2 separate regions of the Homo sapiens genome follow, and region 1 is linked to region 2. Evidence: fine-mapped expression QTL. A gene starts in region 2. The other region holds a variant in brackets. All regions are shown on one strand. Distances are from middle to middle. Region 1 overlaps FBXO42 (F-box protein 42). Region 2 holds the start of SZRD1 (SUZ RNA binding domain containing 1).

The links. PIP is the estimated chance that this variant, and not a neighbour inherited with it, causes the effect. A credible set is the group of variants that fine-mapping cannot tell apart.
Region 1: its variant is the best candidate, but not a certain one, in a credible set for the expression of SZRD1 in whole blood (TOPMed, PIP 0.64).

What each region holds. Positions count from the first base shown.
Region 1 is chr1:16,337,057-16,342,432 of GRCh38, reverse strand. The region is part of intron 1 of FBXO42 (F-box protein 42); the gene reads left to right. Among named protein-coding and RNA genes, the nearest start is that of FBXO42, 13 kb to the left of the region's middle. The variant AG/G (reference allele first, on the strand shown) is at 2,108.
Region 2 is chr1:16,364,081-16,369,456 of GRCh38, reverse strand. SZRD1 (SUZ RNA binding domain containing 1) reads right to left here and starts at 2,215. Exons shown (of 4, transcript NM_001114600.3): 1 at 2,149-2,215. The coding sequence starts at 2,199. It also overlaps the pseudogene RPL22P3. RefSeq lists enhancers at 1,419-1,708, 2,459-2,518.

The DNA.
Region 1 (5,376 bases), 27 kb after region 2:
TCTGTAGAGTTAGGGTTTTTTTTTTTTTTTTTTTTTGAGACAGAGTTTCGCTCTTCTTGCCCAGGCTGGAGTGCAATGGCGTGATCTCGGCTCACCGCAACCTCCGCCTCCCAGGTTCAAGCAATTCTCCTGCCTCAGCCTCCTGAGTAGCTGGGATTACAGGCATGTGCCACCACACCCGGCTAATTTTGTATTTTTAGTAGAGACGGGGTTTCTCCATGTTGGTCAAGCTGGTCTTGAACTCCCAGCTTCAAGTGATCCGCCCGTCTTGGCCTCCCAAAGTGCTGGGATTACAGGCGTGAGCCACTGCACCTGGCCTGTAGAGTTAGGGTTTTGCCATGTTGTCCAGGGTGGTCCTGAACCCCTGGGCTCAGGTGATCCACCCACCTCAGACTCCCAAAGTGCTGGGATTACAGACATGAGCCACTGCGCCTGGCCCAGAACTTTTTTTTTTTTTTTTGGAGACGGAATTTCTCTCTTGTTGCCCAGGCTTGAGTACAATGACGCGATCTTGGCTCATCGCGACCTCCGCCTCCCAGGTTCAAGCGATTCTCCTTCCTCAGCCTCCTGAGTAGCTGGGATTACAGGCAGACGCCACTATGCCTGGCTAATTTTGTATTTTTAGTAGAGACGGGGTTTTCTCCATGTTGGTCAGGTTGGTCTCGAACTCCTGACCTCAGGTGATCCGCCCGCCTTGGCCTACCAAAGCGCTGGGATTACAGGCATGAGCCACCGCACCCGGCCCAGAACTTTTAAGAATATCAAATAGTAGGGACCACCACTCAAACTTACTGCCACTTTTTTTTTTTTTTTTTTTTTTTTTAAAAGACGCAGTCTCACTTGGTTGCCCAGGCTGGAGTGCAGGGGTGCAATCTTGGCTCACTGCAACCTCTGCCTCCCCACCTCCCAGGTTCAAGCGATTCTCCTGCCTCAGCCTCCTGAGTAGCTGGGATTACAGGCGTGCACCACCACTCCCAAATAATTTTTGCATTTTCAGTAGAGACGGTGTTTTACCATGTTGGTCAGGCTGGTCTCGAACTCCTGACCTCATGATCTGCCCGCCTCGGCCTCCCAAAGTGTTGGGATTACAGGCATGAGCCACGGCTTCCAGCCTACTACCACTTTTATAGCTGGGACTTTGAGGAGGAATTGCCAAGGGTTGTCTCATGGTTGGTGCTTGAACCATTCTAATATTTATTTGGTTTTGGTTTATCCTTTAAATGTTGGATTTTGCAATAATAAGCAAATATCTGCATATATTCTTTTTTTCTCTTATGCAAAAGGTTTTCCTACTATATACGCTGCTCAGCCTCTTGGTCTTTTCACCTAGTATATTTTGGAGATCATTCCATATTGGAACAGAGGTAGTCCTTATTCATTTCCACACCTACACAGTGAGGATGCACCAGAGTTTGTTCAACTGGTCTGTTTTTGATGGACATTAGTAAATAATGCTTTACTGCTGATTTTTTATAAATAAATTTTGGTATGGTACAATAGAAGAAGTGCTGGGCTGAAAGACAAAAGATACAGTTTCTATTTTTGCTACTCATTGGCTGTATGACCTTAAAGCCACTTAGGTTTTCTGACCTCACTTTCCTCATTTGTGAAATAAGGGTTCAGTTGTTCTATAATATCTACTCCTGCTTATACTATTTTGTATTTTTCTGCAAGTTTTATTAACCGTATTTTAAGCCTATTGCTCAGTAAAGTGTATAAAGCATTGTAAGAAAATTATAAATGAGAACATAAGGTTAAGTTTTAGAAGTAACTTAACCTTGGCATGGCAAAACCCTAACCCTCAGTAGAGGGTTGGCCGGGCGCAGTGGCTCACGCCTGTAATCCCAGCACTTTGGGAGGCCAAGGTGGGTGGATCACTTGAGGTCAGGAGTTTGAGACCAGCCTGGCCAACATGGTGAAACCCCGTCTCTACTAAAAATACAAAAAATTAGCTGGGCGGGGTGGGCGCCTTTAATTCCAGCTACTCGGGAGGCTGAGGCAGGAGAATTGCATGAACCTGGGAGAGGCGGAGGCTGCAGTGAGCCGAGATGGCACTATTTCACTCTAGCCTAGGCAACAAGAGTGAAACTCCGTCTCAAAAAAAAAA[AG/G]TACTACCAAAGGTTTTCTGGATTTGGATCTGTGGTGCTTGTTGATAGAATTAAGATTTCTGCTTTCATGCCTATTTTTCTGAAACAGTCTCCAGGAAATCTACCTGCTAGGTGATTTTTAATTTTTTTAATTTACTTTTTTTTTTTTGAGACTGGAGTCTTGCTCTGTCGCCCAGACTGGAGTGCAGTGGCACGATCACGGCTCATTGCAAGCTCCGCATCCCGGGTTCACGCCATTCTTCTGCCTCAGCCTCCCAAGAGCTGGGACTATAGGCGCCTGCCACCACGCCTGGCTAATTTTTTGTATTTTTAGTAGAGACAGGGTTTCACTGTGTTAGCCAGGATGGTAATTTACTTTTTAAATTTTTTCTTGAGACAGGGTCTTGCTTTATCACCCAGGCTGGAGCGCAGTGGTACAATCATGGCTCACTGCAGCCTGGATTTCCCAGGCTAAGTGATCCTCTACCTCAGACTCACAAGTAGCTGGGACTACAGGTGTGAGCCACCGTGCTTGGCCAGGTGATTTTTATGATCAGGTGAAGCAAAGATTTACTTCATGTGCATATACACCACTGTCCTTTAGGTTTCCTGGGGATAAGATGTAATCAAGACATTATCTACCTTTCATAAATTCATAATCTGTTCAGCTGTGCAAGTATTAACCAAAAATGTGTAATCTGGTTATTGAGAAAATTTACATAAGAACATAACTATGGCTGGGTGTGGTGGCTCATGCCTGTAATCCCAGCACTTTGGATGGCTGAGGCGGGCTGATCATGAGGTCAAGACATCAAGACCATCCTGGCCAACATGGTGAAACTCTGTCTCTACTGAAAATACAAAAATTAGCTGGGCGTGGTGGCACGCACCTGTAGTCCCAGCTACTCGGGAGGCTGAGGCAGGAGAATCACTTGAACCCAGGTGGCGGAGGTTGCAGTGAGCCAAGAACATGCCACTGCATTCCAGCCTGGCAACACAGTGAGACTTCATCTCAAAAAAACAAAAACAAAAAAACTATAACAATATGAAATAGTGTGACATTGTGTCGATAAGTAATGGTATAGATGGACTTCTGGAAATGATTAATGTGGAATGGAGTAGGAAATGACTTGTGATGGAAGGAGGTCCTCTCCTCTGCTCTAGAGAAGTGAGTAGGAGGCAGAAGCAGGAAGGCATTCCTTTGCCCTGACCACCACTAGAAAAAAGATAAATGACCGCTGGGCAGGGTGGCTTACGCCTGTAATCCCAGCACTTTGGTAGGCTGAGATGGGTGGATCGCTTGAGGTTGGGAATTTGAGACCACCTGGCCAACATGGTGAAACCCCATCTCTACTAAAAATACAGAAATTAGCCGGGGGTGATGATGTGCACCTGTAATCCCAGCTACTCAGGAGGCTGAGGCAGGAGAATTGCTTGAATTTGGGAGGCGGAGGTTGCAGTGAGCCGCGATTGTGCCACTGCACTCCAGCCTGGGGAAAAGGGCGAAACACCGTCTCAAAAAAAAAAAAAAAAAAAAAAAAGACAAATGGAAATAAAATGTTCCATTCCATCACAGCATCTTGTTAAAATGTATTATGTTCTTTGCAGAATATTTTTGTTTATCAGTGGGGAAGCTAGGTTTATATGCCACCCGAGAGATTTGATAGGAGCATTGTGGGATTGTAAAGTACTTTGAATTCCTCTTGAAACACTGTTTTTACCATGCTACTGGTCTGCTCACATTTAGTAAATTCCTGGAGACTGCAGAATAATCTCTAGATTGATGAGGCAAAAGGCTAGAGTCAGAACAGTTAGGTAGGTGTCTACTATTTTGGTTCAAGTGTGGATGACAATGCCCAGCATCAAAGCAGGGGGATAACAATAAAAGGTAGGACGTTTTGAAGAAACAGGTAATAGAGGAAAGTGAAAGTCTGTATCCAAGACAAGATGTCATGCAACATTGTTATTCTTTTTTTTTTTTTTTTTTTTTTGGAGATAGGGCCATACTCTGTTCCTCAGGCTACAGTGCAGAGGCTCACTGCAGCCTCAACTTCAGTGCTCAAGCGATCCTCCCTCTTTTTTTTTGAGATGGAGTCTCGCTCTGTTGTCCAGGCTGGAGTGCAGTGGAGCATGATCTCAGCTCACTGCAAGCTCTGCCTCCCAGGTTCACACCATTCTCCTGCCTCAGCCTCCCGAGTAGCTGGGACTACAGGCGCCTGCCACCACACCTGGCTAATTTTTTGTATTTTTAGTGGAGACGGGGTTTCACTGTGTTAGCCAGGATGGTCTTGATCTCCTGACCTCATGATCCACCTGCCTCGGCCTCCCAAAGTGCTGGGATTACAGGTGTGAGCCACCGCGCCCGGCCAATCCTCCCTCCTTGGCCTCCCAAAGTGTAGGCGTGAGCCACTGTGTTTGGCCTATTATTCTTTTTTTTTTTTTTTTTTTTTTTTTTTTTTTTTGAGACGGAGTCTCGCTCTTTCTCCCAGGCTGGAGTACAGTGGCGCGATCTCCACTCACTGCAACCTCTGCCTCCTGGGTTCAAGCAATTCTTCTGCCTCAGCCTCCCGAGTAGCTGAAATTACAGGTGCCTGTCGCCGTGCCCAGCTAATTTTTGTATTTTTTGTAGAGGCGGGGGTTTCACCATGTTGGGCAGGCTGGTCTTGAACTCCTGACCTCAGGTGATCCGCCCACCTTGGCCTCCCAAAGTGCTAGGATTACAGGCGTGAGCCACTGTGCCTGGCCTGGCCTATTATTCTTTTGAGGATGGTTTGAAGTTAATTTCAATGACAATTTATAGTATCTCTTAAAAAGAATAAATGGAGTCCTATGATTGGGTTCAAATCTGGTTCTGTGTAATCATGGGCAAGTTAATTTATCTCAGCCTCAATTTTCCTCATCTTATCCTCATCTTAGAATTGATAATATGTTCCTCACAGAGTTGACGTAAAGATTAAATGAGATAAGGCACCTGGCACATGTTCTCAATACCTGTTGATTCCATTTTCTCATCTAGTGTTGATACCAGCTACATTTTAATGGTTACTGAAGACCTTGATACTCAAGGTCCCCAAACTGGCAGTGCTGGCATCATCAAGGTGAGAATACAGTGTCAAGTTCCACCCGAGGCTTACTGAATCTGAATCTATAAACTAGATTCACATTAAAATTTGAGAAGCATTGGAACCTTAGGAGATATTGAATGAGATTTCCTCTGAGTACCTAATGATTTGGTTGTTCTTTTATCTTTGGACAGTTGTTTTTGCTGTGCACTCTTAGCTGAAACTAT
Region 2 (5,376 bases):
CACTCACCCCGTAGAAGATGGAATCATGGATGCTGCCAATTTTGAGCAGTTTTTGCAAGAAAGGATCAAAGTGAACGGAAAAGCTGAGAACCTTGGTGGAGGGATGGCGACCATTGAAAGGAGTAAGAGCAAGATCAACGTGACATCCGAGGTGCCTTTCTCCAAAAGGTATTTCAAATATCTCACCAAAACATATATGAAGAATAATTTACGTGATTGGTTGCTCCTAGTTACTAACAGCAAAGATAGCTACAAATTATGTTACTTCCAGATTAACCAGGACAAAGAGGAGGAAGATGAGGATTAAATTTCATTTATCTGGAATATTTTGTATAAGTTTTTCAATAAAACTTGGGAACCAAAAGAAAAAAGAAAGAACACGCGACAAGCGTCAGAAAGACCTAAGTCTCTAAATCTCACATCTCTAGGCTTATTCAGCTGTTAAATGGGGGACTGTACTAGCTATTTCTAATTGACTTACCCATTCTGAAAAACTAAAGTAAGCCCCAATTTCTGCTGAATCCTATTCATTTTTGTTCATTTGCCTCCAACTTCTCTAACATGAGGGATTTATGACCCTTTGAAACAGGTGAGGAAAACCAAAGAAAGGCCAAGATGCCCAAGAAACGTATCATTTGCATGATATTAAAGTTGTAAGCCAAGCTTTTTTATAGGGATGTCTGGATGATTCACTCAGATTAGTGGTAGGCAATAAACGCCTGTACCGAAAATGTTGCATTTTCTGGCACAAAGTCACTGATAAGCACACTGCCTAGCATATAGCAGACACTCAAAAATGCTGGTTGAATGAACAAGGAGCCAACTGACACCTGTTACTCCCTATAAAATCTTTAACTTTCTTAAGCCAAAACTCAAGAAAGATGGTTGTCACATTAAGAACTCTACTAAATATCCTCTGAACGAACGAATCCTTCAAATTCTCAATTATGCTAAATGGAAAAACATAAACAACCGTTGAGAGAAATGCTGAACCAGCGGAAAAAACTTCAAAGCCAAGTTTCAACATTCCCGTAGAGCTAGATACACCCACTGACTGCTGCCAGGGTCAATTTCCCGGCCTCTTCCAGAGCTCATAAGCACCCCCAAAAAGCGCTTAGGAAAAAAAACCCAGCGCCTACTCTACCCTGGTACGCTCGACTCCTCGCACACGTAAACCTTTAAGGTGGATGTCAGTGCAGCCAGCATTGAACAGACGCGAACACGGGGAGACAAAAAAAGCATCTCCCCATATTCACAAGGGTCACCACAGACAAACTCTGAAAAGACCAAATTATTCACAAATCTAAGAGAATTGACAGATCCTCTTTGAGATAAACTATTTTCCTACAGTTTCTGGAGGCAAACAAAAACTCCAAAAACAAGTCGAACGGTCCATCTCCCCACTCCTCTCCCAAGAATGTGGCTGTTTTACATATCACACCCTGGACTCCGACAAGCGAACTCCTAGACCTTCCCGGGGCCTCGGATCGCTGAGTGGCAGAGGAGCTGCCCCGCAGAGCTTTCGGTTGCTTTGGCAGAGTCCCCGTGAGACCTGCCTGCCTGCCCACAAACTCTTCTTGGAGTAAAAGTGAAAGAGAAAAAAAACCCGACTCGTCCACCGTGACGGATGGTGGGGGATTTTAGCAGAGTTGAGTAGCCCAAAGAGGATTCAATTTCCCCCCGCCCTCGGCTGCCTCCTCCCGCTTTCCTGCGAAGCCGGACATGCCTCCTTGGTCCGCGCAAGCCCCACCACCACCCACATGGTGTGTCCGTCCCGGTCAGAGCACAAGAACTTTAAAATGGTGCCTCGGGCCACAAGGCTCATCGGAAAGAGTCACAGAGGCCCACGGCCAGCAAGTGGGCGCGGGGGGTCAGGAAAGGAGGCCCCGGGTGGCGGGTGGGGCGCCCCGGGTGACGCGCGCGTTAGTGGGCGGAGGGAGGCGCACCAGGCAAAGGAAAGGAGAGAAATGGATCGCGGCCCCTTTAAGAGGCCTTCACGGCGCTCAGGAACTGGGGGCCTCTCCACCACCCCCAGCCCGGCGTATGGGGCCCTTCCTTGGGGAGAACTATCTCCAGACCCGCTCCCCGGAGGCTCCCCTCACGCCAGGTCTCGCCCGGCCCTGCCATGGGACGGCGGCTCCTCCTTACCCCGCTGTCTGCCGCCTCTTCCCAGCTCTCAGCGACCTCCTCATCTTCCATCTTACTCGCCGCTTTCCCTCCTCCCCCACCCCCTCCCCGCGCCTGCGCTTTGAAGCGCGCCTCCGTCGCGGGCGCAGGCACGCAAGGCTTTACTCAATGGACCCCGCCCGCTGCCAAGCCCGGAAGAGGCGCCAGGCAAGGTCCCAAGTGTACATTAGGGCAGCCATCTTGGAAGGGGGCAGAGAAGGCGGAAAGATGCCATCTTTCTTAAGGGCCAACGCGTTATCTGTCTTACAGAATGGGCGTTCAAGGGAAGTCCTCATCTCGAGTACCGGAAGTGTGTTCTGTGGAACCATCTTTTCTAAGGGCAGGCAATTAAAGAAAACTTTTTTTCTTTTAAAGTGAGTCGTAGTTTTCCTAAACTACAGATAATGGTATCTTCAGAATTCTGAAAACATTTTTAAACACCAACAAATGATGAAAAATATCTGCTGATGCAGAAAACATTTTATTATTTCTGATAGGGTGAAAATCATTACAGTATTTCCTGCTCATAAAGCAGTATTCTAATCATTTATTAACACTATATCCGCTACCGTAAGGTAAAGACGGTAAAGATAATATTGCACCTCAGTTGGGAGAACCAGTGGGATTCCCAGCTACTAAGTTCTCCTGGGTCTTTAATGGTAGATAAATACGTTAGTATTACCTCTAAAAATTACTGGCCAGGCGCGGTGGCTCACGCCTGTAATCCCAGCACTTTGGGAGGCCGAGACAGGCGGATTACCTGAGGTCAGGAGTTCAAGACCAGCCTGGCCAACATGGTGAAACCCCGTCTCTACTACAAATACAAAAATTAGCTGGGCATGGTGGCACACGCCTATAATCCCAGCTACTCCGGAGGCTGAGGCAGGAGAACTGCTTGAGCCAGGGAGGTGGAGGTTGCAGTGAGCCGAGATCATGCCACTGCACTCCAGCCTGGCCGACAGAGTGAGGCTCTGTCTCAAAAAAAAAAAAAATTATTTATGTCAGGGCAGGCGTAGTGGCTCACACCTGTAATCCCACTTTGGGAGGCCAAGGTGGGCAGATCACCTGAGGTCAAGAGTTCGAGACCAGCCTGACCAACACGGAGAAACCCCGTCTCTACTTAAAATGCAAAATTAGCTGGGCATGGTGGCACATGCCTGTAATCCCACCTACTCGGGAGGCTGAGGCGGGAAGATCGCTTGAGCCTGGGAGGCGGAGGTTGCAGTGAGCCAAGATTGCGCCATTGCACTCCAGCCTGGACAACAAGAGCAAAACTCTATCTCAAAAAAAAGTTATTTATGTGGCCGGGCATGGTGGCTCACGCCTATAATCCCAGCACTTTGGAAGGGTGAGGCGGGGGGATCGCTTGAGCCCTGCAGTTTGAGACCAGCCTGGGCAACGAGGCAAAAGCCCATCTCTACTAAAAAAAAAAAAAAAAGCTGTGTGATCTTAACGCAAGTTACATAAGGATTCTATGTCTCAGTTCCCCAAGTGTATACATTAGAGATAGCTACTTCAAAAGTAGATTGTAAGAATTTAACCAGTTACTATGCTGAAATGCCTAGAACAGTGCCTGACCCATAGTAAGAGTCCTAAGGGTTAGCTATTATCATTATGGGAGTGTCTTGTCTGCCCGAGGAAGATTTATAATTGTCACTTCTGTAATCATCCTTTCTTAAAATATAAGGACAGGGAGATGCCAGGCGCGGTGGCTCACGCCTATAATCCCAACACTGTGGGAGGCTGAGGTGGGCGAATCAGTTGAGGTCAGGAGTTCAAGACTAGCCTGGTCAACATGGTGAAACCCCATCTCTACTAAAGATACAAAAATTAGCCGGATGTGGTGGCAAGCACCTGTAATCCCAGCTACTTGGGAAGCTGAGGCAGGAGAGTTGCTTGAACCCAGGAGGCAGAGGTTGCAGTGAGCCAAGATTGCGCCATTGCACTCCAGCCTGGGCAACAAAGCGAGACTCTGTCTCAAAAAAAAAAAAAAAGGCAGGGAGATAAGCAAACACCATGTGTTTATATTCTTACTGACATGTTCCTGTTTTTCTCTCAGTTTTAAATACATGTCATTCAGTAGTGTTGCATTTGGCTGCTATAACCAAGTTATCTGACTTGGAATGTGTTTTTTCTTGTATTTTTAGTATGCCATTAATCTTTCTGAAGTAAAACCTTCCTGCTGTGAAATTTCATAATTTGTATTCTTTTTTTTTTTTTTTTAGACATAGTCTCACTGTCGCCCAGGCTGGAGTGCAGTGGCGCAATCTTGGCTCATTGCAGCCTCTGCCTCCTGGGTTCATGTGATTCTCCTGCCTCAGCCTCCCGAGTAGCTGAGACTATAGGTGCTTGCCACTATGCCCAGCTAATTTTTGTATTTTTAGTAGAGGCCAGGTTTCACCATGTTGGCCAGACTGGTCTGGAACCCCTAACCTCAGATGATCTGCCTGCCTCAATCTCCCAAAGTGTTGGGATTACAGGTGTGAACCACTCTGCCCGTCCTGTTATTTGTATTCTTAATGATTATCATCATAAACTGCAACCATGTGTTAAATGTTACTGGTCTTTATTTAGAAGCTTAAGTGATATGCTTACTAATTCTCTGGTTTCACAACTTCCTGACTCTGAAATATTGTTCATTTCCAGGGTCTGTCCTCAGTCCACTGTTCTTACCTAGATGTTCATGGTATAAGCCACCCACTGTATGCTGAAGACTGCCAAAGTTGACTTCTAGCTGTGAACTGACCTGGTGTTTCTGATTCTGATTTTTACAGCTAGGCTTCTTATTGCCATCTCCACATGGATATTCCACTAGCAGCTTTTAAGTCTCTAAAACTCAAGTAATTCTCGGCCGAGCGCAGTGGCTCACGCCTGTAATCCCAGCACTTTGGGAGGCCAAGGCAGGCGGATCACGAGGTCAGGAGTTCGTAGACCAGCCCGACCAACATGGTGAAACCCCGTCTCTACTAAAAATACAAAAATTAGCCAGGCGTGGTGGCGCATGCCTGTAATCCCAGCTACTCAGGAGGCAGAGGCAGGAGAATCGCTTGAACCCGGGAGGTGGAGGTTCCAGTGAGCCGAGATCATGCCACTGCACTCCAGCCTGGGTGACAGTGAGATTCCATCTCAAAAAACAAACAAACAAACAAAAACCAAAAAAAAAAACCACACAAAAACTCAGTAATTCTGTTGAGTTCACCAATTTCATGG